Homo sapiens: one gene and its partner. The protein of the gene in region 2 purifies or fractionates together with the protein of the main gene of each other region. This does not show direct contact. Each region holds a gene or a part of one and is shown on either strand. Other genes may lie near its edges. The genes, in order: ACOT2 and ZNF277.

Region 1 (3,918 bases), on a different chromosome or scaffold from region 2:
GACACTGCAGCAGCACCGCAGCTTCCTGGTCTGGAAGCAGTACCTCACCCTGCTGCCGGACCTGGTGGATAAAGTGGCCCACGGGTGTGAAGCCCAGGCTTTTCCCTAGTCTTGAAGCCCAACCCCGGAGGACCTTGCAAGAGATGAAGCACATGCAAAACACCGAGGTCTTCACACTGCACCAGCCCCTGCCAAAGTATGACCACTGTGTGGGTGAGAAGCACCGCTGGGTAGGGCAGCACCTGGAGCCCCAGCTTGTGGAGTGAATTATCCTGACAATGGACAAGACCGTGGTCTTTGGGGACTTGCTCACTGATGACAAAGATACCATTCGAGGCCAAGAGGAGAGGCCACAATAGTACCTGGTCCTGCCATGCATAGGGACGCGGCTGCTCTCCTGGAATGGTAACAGGGAGATCATAGCCAGCCAGCGGGGAGCTAGGCAGCAGGAACGAACAGGCCCTGCAGGGGGCAGCAGCTGCAGCTGGAGCAATGGTGGGCGGGCAGGCACCAAAACCTCTGCACTGTCACAGGCCCAGCCACCTGGCACCTCCTAGCTGCCATGGAAATACAGTGAGAAAACCAGTCGGAATTCTTATTTAAAAAAAAAAAAAAGTGGCTTCCTAGTCAATACATAAATAAGAACATTAAAAAATTGAAACTACCTGAATTTTTTTTTTTTTTTTTTAAGATAGAGTCACTCTTGTCCCCCAGGCTGGAGTGCAATGGCATGATCTCAGCTCACTGCAACCTCTGCCTCCCGGGTTCCAGCGATTCTCCTGCCTCAACCTCCTAAGTAGTTGGGACTACAGGCATGCACCACCACGCCTGGCTAATTTTTCTATTTTTAGTAGAGATGGGGTTTCACCATGTTGGCCAGGCTGGTCTCGAACTCCTGACCTCAGGTGATCCGCCGGCCTCGGCCTCCCAAAGCGCTAGGATTACAGGCGTTAGCCACCGCGCCCGGCCTGTTTTGTTTTTAATATAAGTGTCTTTTTCCTTTCCTTACAATGTCTTTTTTTTGAGACGGAGTCTCGCTCTGTCGCCCAGGCTGGAGTGCAGTGGCGCGATCTCAGCTCACTACAAACTCTGCCTCCCGGGTTCACACCATTCTCCTGCCTCAGCCTCCCGAGTAGCTGGGACTACAGGCGCCCGCTACTACGCCCAGCTACTGTTTTGTATTTTTAGTAGAGACGGGGTTTCACCGTGTTAGTCAGGATGGCCTCAATCTTTTGATCTCGTGATCTGCCCGCCGAGACTTCCCAAAGTGCTGGGATTACAAGCGTGAGCCACTGCGCCTGGCCCTTACAATGTCTTTTAACTGAGCACTAGGTTTGAGGGACCTCTCAGTTTTGGAGCGGCAGGGACACTTCCCCAATCAGCTTTCCATTCCATTCCTGTTTCTTTACACTAACCTCCGGAAGGTTGGAAGCTACATCCCTTCTTCGTGTGAAAAGGGCAGGGACGGAAAAAAAAAAAAAGTGTAACTCCCCTCAAAGTGCCGGGCGCGGTGGCTCACCCTGTAATCCCAGCTCTTAGGGAGGCAGAGGCGGGAAGATAGCTGGAGACCAGGAATTCGAAACCTGCCTGGGCAATATAGCCCGGGGGCGCGGCGGGGGGGCATACACATAAGCGAAAAGCGTGGGGCGGGGGAGACACACAAAGTGAAAGGCGAACGAACACGGAACAATTAGCGGAGGTGAGTCACCTGGCGGCAGGAAGAGCGTGCCTCGCACCCGGCCCACGCGCACCGGCTCGCGCCGCACCCCGGGCGGGAGGAAGTAGCGCTCGTGCCGCGTCTGGCACAGCAGCCGCCCGGGGTCGGGGTCGTGGCCATCCAGCACCTCCAGCTCCACGGCCAAGGGCGTTCGCACGTCGCGCTTCACCAGCCGCACCAAAGGTTTCTCGGGCTCCAAGGCCCAGAGCAGCCCCATGGGCTCAAGCCCCGCGAAGCTGCCGCCCAGCGCGGGCGCGCGCTCCAGGTCCAGCTCGCCAAGAGTGTCGGCGCGGTAGCGCGCGTGGGCCTGGAAAAGCGCGCCCTTCTCGTCGCGCAGGGACGCGCGCAGCGTGACCGGCTGCTCCGGGGCTAGGCCGCGCACGGCGATTCGCACCGGTTCGTCCCAGCAGCAGCGGCCCGCAGGCTCCAGGATCAGCGTCGCCGCCATCCGAGCAGGAACCCTAATGATCTGACCAACCTGCCTCAGCTGTGGAGACCCCAGGAACTGCGCCGAACTCTTCAGGCTCCATTGGTACAGCCGGGACGCTCGAAGGACAGCAGGAGATGAGGCCATTTTGAATTCAGACCTGAGAACAACTGAATGGGGGTGGGGAGAAAGAAGCTTGTTAGACATCCTCTCGGGCTGCCGTCGCAGGCTAAGCGCCCACTAGGGCAGAGCTGTCTGCTAACGTGAGCGGGGAAGGCCAGAGTCCAGCCGATCAGCCAGACCAAATATAGACACACTGGAACTTGCTTAAAGTCTCCTGTGTTGAAACCTCCACTTTATGTTGGAAAGCTACTTCCTAGGTTTGCTTTTCAGAAGCTTGCTGGCCTGCGGAATGGGCTGGACCAGGGCTGGTTCTTAAAGAACCAGGCAGCTAGCAGTCTCCAGGCTCCAAACTCCTGATGGCGAAGAGGAATGCAGAGCTGGAGTTAGTTTTGATCACTTTGTTGAATAATTCACACTCATTACTAATCTTAGGGCTTTTCTTTCAAAATCTGCACCATGGTGTTTTGCTTTTGTGTTCTCTGTATATGCCTATCCTCCACATCAATCCCACATCGAAGGGTGCTGGCTTCTTACTAGCTGTGTGACCTCTGAGCTTCATTCCTTACAAGTGTAAAAATAGCCAAATGGGGTAATAGGTAGTAATTTCTCAAACTCCTGACTTTGTAATCCGCCCGCCTCAGCCTCCCAAAATGCTAGGATTTACAGGCATGAGCCACCGCGCCCGGCTAATAGTTATTATTTTGTTTTACTGGTTTCTCAATTATTGTCCCAGTCAGGCAAGGGTTACTTTTTTTTTTTGAGAGACAGGGTCTCACTACATTGCCAGACTGGAGTACAGCGGCAGTTTACCATCACTGCACTTACAAACCTCCAACTCCTGGTGCTCAAGCCATCTTCCTGACTCAGCCTCTCAAATACCTCAAAGGACTACCGGAGCTCCCCATGCATCGCGCTTTTTTCTACTTTTTCGTAAGCTATTGGTTTCACCAGAGGTGTGGTGTTTTTTTTTTTCATCACTTAAGCTTTAGGCCCCTGCCAAGCCCTTGTACCTGATTTTATAATTTCCTACCTGTGTAATTAGAGAAAGCTATAAATGTGTAGGCTTCAAACCCACAAAACCTGTGTTTGCCTCTGCTCCTAATAAGGCTGTCCTCAAGGTAAGCCTTTTTATCTCGTTCCAAATCTCTCATGTCCCACGTCATTAATCATACAATTCCCTGTCAGTTCTAATTACCTTTGTATAACACCTCAAGTATGTTCTGTGCCTAGAACTCTCAGGAAGTAAGAAGGCAAATAATTCTGTGTCTGGAATTGGTTCCTTCTGGTGGATTCTTGGTCTCGCTGACATCAAGAATGAAGCCGCAGACCCTCGCAGTGACTGTTACAGTTCTTAATACAGTTCTGAAAAGTAGTGTGTCTGGAGTTTGTTTCCTCTGATGTTCAGATGCGTCCGGAATGTGTTCCTTCTGGTGGGTTCATGGTCTCGCTTCTCACCGACTTCAAGAGTAAAGCCACAGACCTTCAAGGTGAGTGTTACAGCTCATAAAGGCAGCAGGTCCAGAGTTGTTTTTCTTGTTCCTCTCAGTGGGTTCATGGTCTTGGCTTCAGGAGTGAAGCTGTATACCTTCACGGTGTTACAGCTCTGAAATGCAGTATGGACCCAAAGAAGGAGCAGTAGCAAGGTTTATTG
Region 2 (3,818 bases):
TTTTTTTTTTTTTTTTTTTTTTTTTTTTTGAGATGGAGTCTCGCTCTGTTGCCCAGGCTGGAGTGCAGTGGTGTGATCTCAGCTCACTGCAAGCTCCACCTCCTGGGCTCACACCATTCTCCTGCCTCAGCCTCCCGAGTAGCTGGGACTACAGGCACCTGCCACCACACCTGGCTAATTTTTTGTATTTTTAGTAGAGATGGGGTTTCACCGTATTAGCAAGGATGGTCTCGATCTCCTGACCTCATGATCTGCCCACCTCAGTCTCCCAAAGTGCTGAGATTACAGGCGGGAGCCACTGCACCCGGCTGAAAATTTTTATTTTCGTAAGTTAATCAGAAAGTAATTTTTTAAATTGTTACTTTTGTTTAAAAGTACATGGGTTCCCATTATTTGTGATTTAATCTCGACTATTACTTGAAGTTGACTTGCTGTTCCTTTAGTGATTTCTTGTAAGTCTTTCTTTTATCTTTGGACTTAGCTAAATATGTTATAAGAGAGAGAAATGATTTAAATATTTGTGCTATATCCTCAAGAGATCAAGGAGAAAAATAAATGCTATTTACCATAGTCATATAATTTAAGAAAGTCCCTGGAAGCATATTTTATTTTGTAGACATCCCAAATGATTATTTCTTCCAGTAGGGGAAGGTGATACCATTGGATGTTGATTTATATCTAAGAAAAGTTTTCCTGTACAACAACTGCAGTAAAGAAATAGGACTTCCTGAGTTTCTCTTCTCTCCTTATAGCAGTGTCTTATGAAATCTGCAAAACAAGGCTAAATTTACTATCATGTCTTATGGATGTTATTTGCGTGCACTTATTCATAATTTCCAATTTACATGAATTTTCTCACTGTTGCTAACAGTGGCCTTAAGAATGATCAAAAGATGTCATGATCCTAGTAGTCCTAAGGATTTATTTATAAGAACTCAAACCCTACTACTTCAGCCATTCTTGTTCTTTAGCATGCAGAATCTGTACGATGTGTCTGCAGATGGACTCAGGTCTCTAAAAATACCTACATATACTGCATTTAAGTTACCTTTTTTACTTTACAGTTTGATAGTGATACATTTAATGGAAGTGAGCATTATGCCAGCTTACAGAAACAAAAGAAGAATGAAAAGGCAATCAATCCATACATGCTCGTTGAATTTCTGCTTAAGTAGATGCCTATACAAAGAAGTACAAGAGTACAAGGCATAATCCATATCATACAAGAGTGTACGGTCTACTTAGAGAAGAAAGATAAATATGTATTCTTATCTTGGTAATAGAGATAATGATAAAATATCTTGCAGGGCTTATGAAGATTAAGTGACATGTAATATACTTAGAACACTACCTGGCACATAGAAGGCACTTAATAAATATTAGCCAATAAAAATAACAGTAATAATGCTGTGTCTTAACAATGAGAAGGATTTGGATAGTTAAGAGAGTTGTAGGGAAGGGAAGAAAGATACATATGCATCTAAATGTTCAAGGTGTATTCAGGAAAATCGAGTAAAAGTCTACTCCGGCTTAGATAGAAAAATTTTTATGGGGAGGAGTATGAGATAAATTTGAAGAGGTAAAATGGAGCTAAATTGTGGAAATCCTTCAGTGCCAGAAACTTGACTTTGTAGTAATAAAGACCCATTAATGTGCCCTCATTGTCCATCAGTGACATGAAGAAAAGAGTAAATGTAGCTGCGTATAAATCCATTTCAAGCTGTCAAAGCCTGAGAAAGACTAGACCAACTTGGGGATTGGAAGTAAGCTAACAATGACTGATGACCATCCATAAGCCATGCCTTGTATTTGGTTCTTGCTTCATAGCACCCTGTGAGGTGGCTATTAAATGCCGTTCTATTTATGAGTAAAATGTGGCCTAGGAAGCTTAATTTGCCCAGGAACACATAGTGAATGAGGTGCAGAGCTAGAGTTTCAAACCAAACATTCCAGGTACATGCCTTTTAAGCCATGCCATGCCAGCGTAGTCATTATTTGGCCTCTCATGTGTCTGGTACTACTATTCTAGGCTCTGGGAATCTCTCTGTCCTGGGTGCTCATGGTCTGACAAGTCTGTGTAGGGAGGGGATTCAGGCTTGGATTGAAGTTTAGGGAAAGCAGAGGCAGTTTACAATAGCCCGCCACTGGAATTCTGATTAGAGGATCAACAAAAAGTAAAAAAAGACTTGCCAAACAGCAGGAAGACAGGCTGAATTTGCCATCAGCCAGTTCATCACAATTTTATGCTACATAGTGTGGAAGCATGAGGTTAGTGTGGGTGATTCTTCTGTGGGCGTTAGCAATGATTATAGGATCTATCTCCTTTATAAAGAAAGAACTTTACAAATCAGTAAGAAGCATGTCCAGAAAGAAGTCTAAATCATTAAATGAAACAAAAGTAACAGTATACTTTTTCTTCTTCTATCAAGTTAACAGGACTTGAAAATAATAGTACTAAATGGTGGCAAGAATGTTAAGAGACAAGTACTTCTTCAGCTGCTTTTAAGAATGTAAACTGGTATACCATTTCTGAGAGGCACTTTCTCATCATGCATTGGAACTCGTGAAGATGTTTATGCCCTTGGCCCATAGTGTGCAAGAACTCATCCTAGGAAGACTTTACAGCCAGAGGGTTTTGAAGTCACTCACTCTACCACAGCTTGGTGGTTTTTTCCTTATGCTGCTACTAATTATACTTTATCAAACAATTTTTTATTAATCAGAATTTCATTCTAGTTTCTAAAACATGTAATTTAAACCAATCAAACTGCTTAATGATAATGGATGTATAATGTATTCAGTGTTTGAGTGACCCCAGCTCAATATTTCAACTCAAAGACTTTGAATTGAGGATCTTGAGGATCTCAACTTGAGGATCTCAACTCAAGTCCACGAGGAAGAACCCTCAAACTAGAGTATTAGTAGGGCATTTGCTGACTTGATTTGCATTAACGATGATTTGCATATGTATTATTCTTAAATATTTATTCTTTCATGTGGAACTCTAGGTAAAGCATATAGTTTAAGTACCTTTGTATGGTTTGCTCTTAGTTCAAAATGACTGTAACTTAAGGGCAGAAACTGTGTCTTATATTTAAACATCCTTCCTAGTCCTCCCTATACTCCTAAGTTCATATTGTTATTTTTCCCCAAACCTCATTTTAAACAAACAGACAAAACTCTGTTTTCTGTGTGAGTGGCTGGAGGTATATAGAGTTTAAATGATTCACTGAAAGTTACAGTAACAGATTTTATGCTAGAATCATATTTCTTTTTCCATTTCTTTGAGATTTCACTGGTTTCTTGACATTTGCAAGATTTGTATGTGTTCCCAGTTTTCTTTTTGAAGAGCTTGATTCCTACTTGACACTTCTTTGAATATTTTCATCCATATTCTGAAAGAAACTACAGAATTAGGAAGATTCTCGAGGATTTCAATAGCTTGAACACCTTCTTCCCTTTAGCTTCCTTTAAAAATTCTCCCGTGATCTTGGTGCATCATCCTCTTATTTCTCATCAGTCTAGCTTAGTCTTGTCCAGTGGTTCTTTTCCCTCTTTTCTCTTAAATGTGTATACATATGTTTCTCAAGATCTTATCACCTGTTCAGGGCATGCACATCTGTATAACTACCACTATTAGGCCTATGGCTTAAATGTTAGTGCTGGTGCAGAGTAGGCAGTCAGAGTAAATATTCATGAATTGAGTTCATCCATAGCTTTCATCCTGGTTCACTTCTGAGCCCCAAATCTATATTTCCTTATGTGAAACTTTTCCATTTGGATTTCCAGTCCACACTTTAATATGCCTAAAAACAGAA

Evidence for each region.
Region 1: the proteins of ZNF277 (region 2) and ACOT2 purify together in Homo sapiens (affinity purification with mass spectrometry; one large-scale study listed by BioGRID and IntAct). This does not show direct contact.

Annotation. Positions count from the first base shown.
Region 1 is NC_000014.9:73,567,674-73,571,591, reverse strand, and holds the start of ACOT2 (acyl-coenzyme A thioesterase 2, mitochondrial), read right to left. Parts: upstream 2,380-3,918; 5' UTR 2,352-2,379; coding exon 1,709-2,351; intron 1-1,708. UniProt on the Homo sapiens protein: Catalyzes the hydrolysis of acyl-CoAs into free fatty acids and coenzyme A (CoASH), regulating their respective intracellular levels. Displays higher activity toward long chain acyl CoAs (C14-C20).
Region 2 is NC_000007.14:112,296,917-112,300,734, forward strand, and holds part of ZNF277 (zinc finger protein 277), read left to right. Parts: intron 1-3,818. UniProt on the Homo sapiens protein: Probable transcription factor. Involved in modulation of cellular senescence; represses transcription of the tumor suppressor gene INK4A/ARF, perhaps acting via the Polycomb group (PcG) complex PRC1.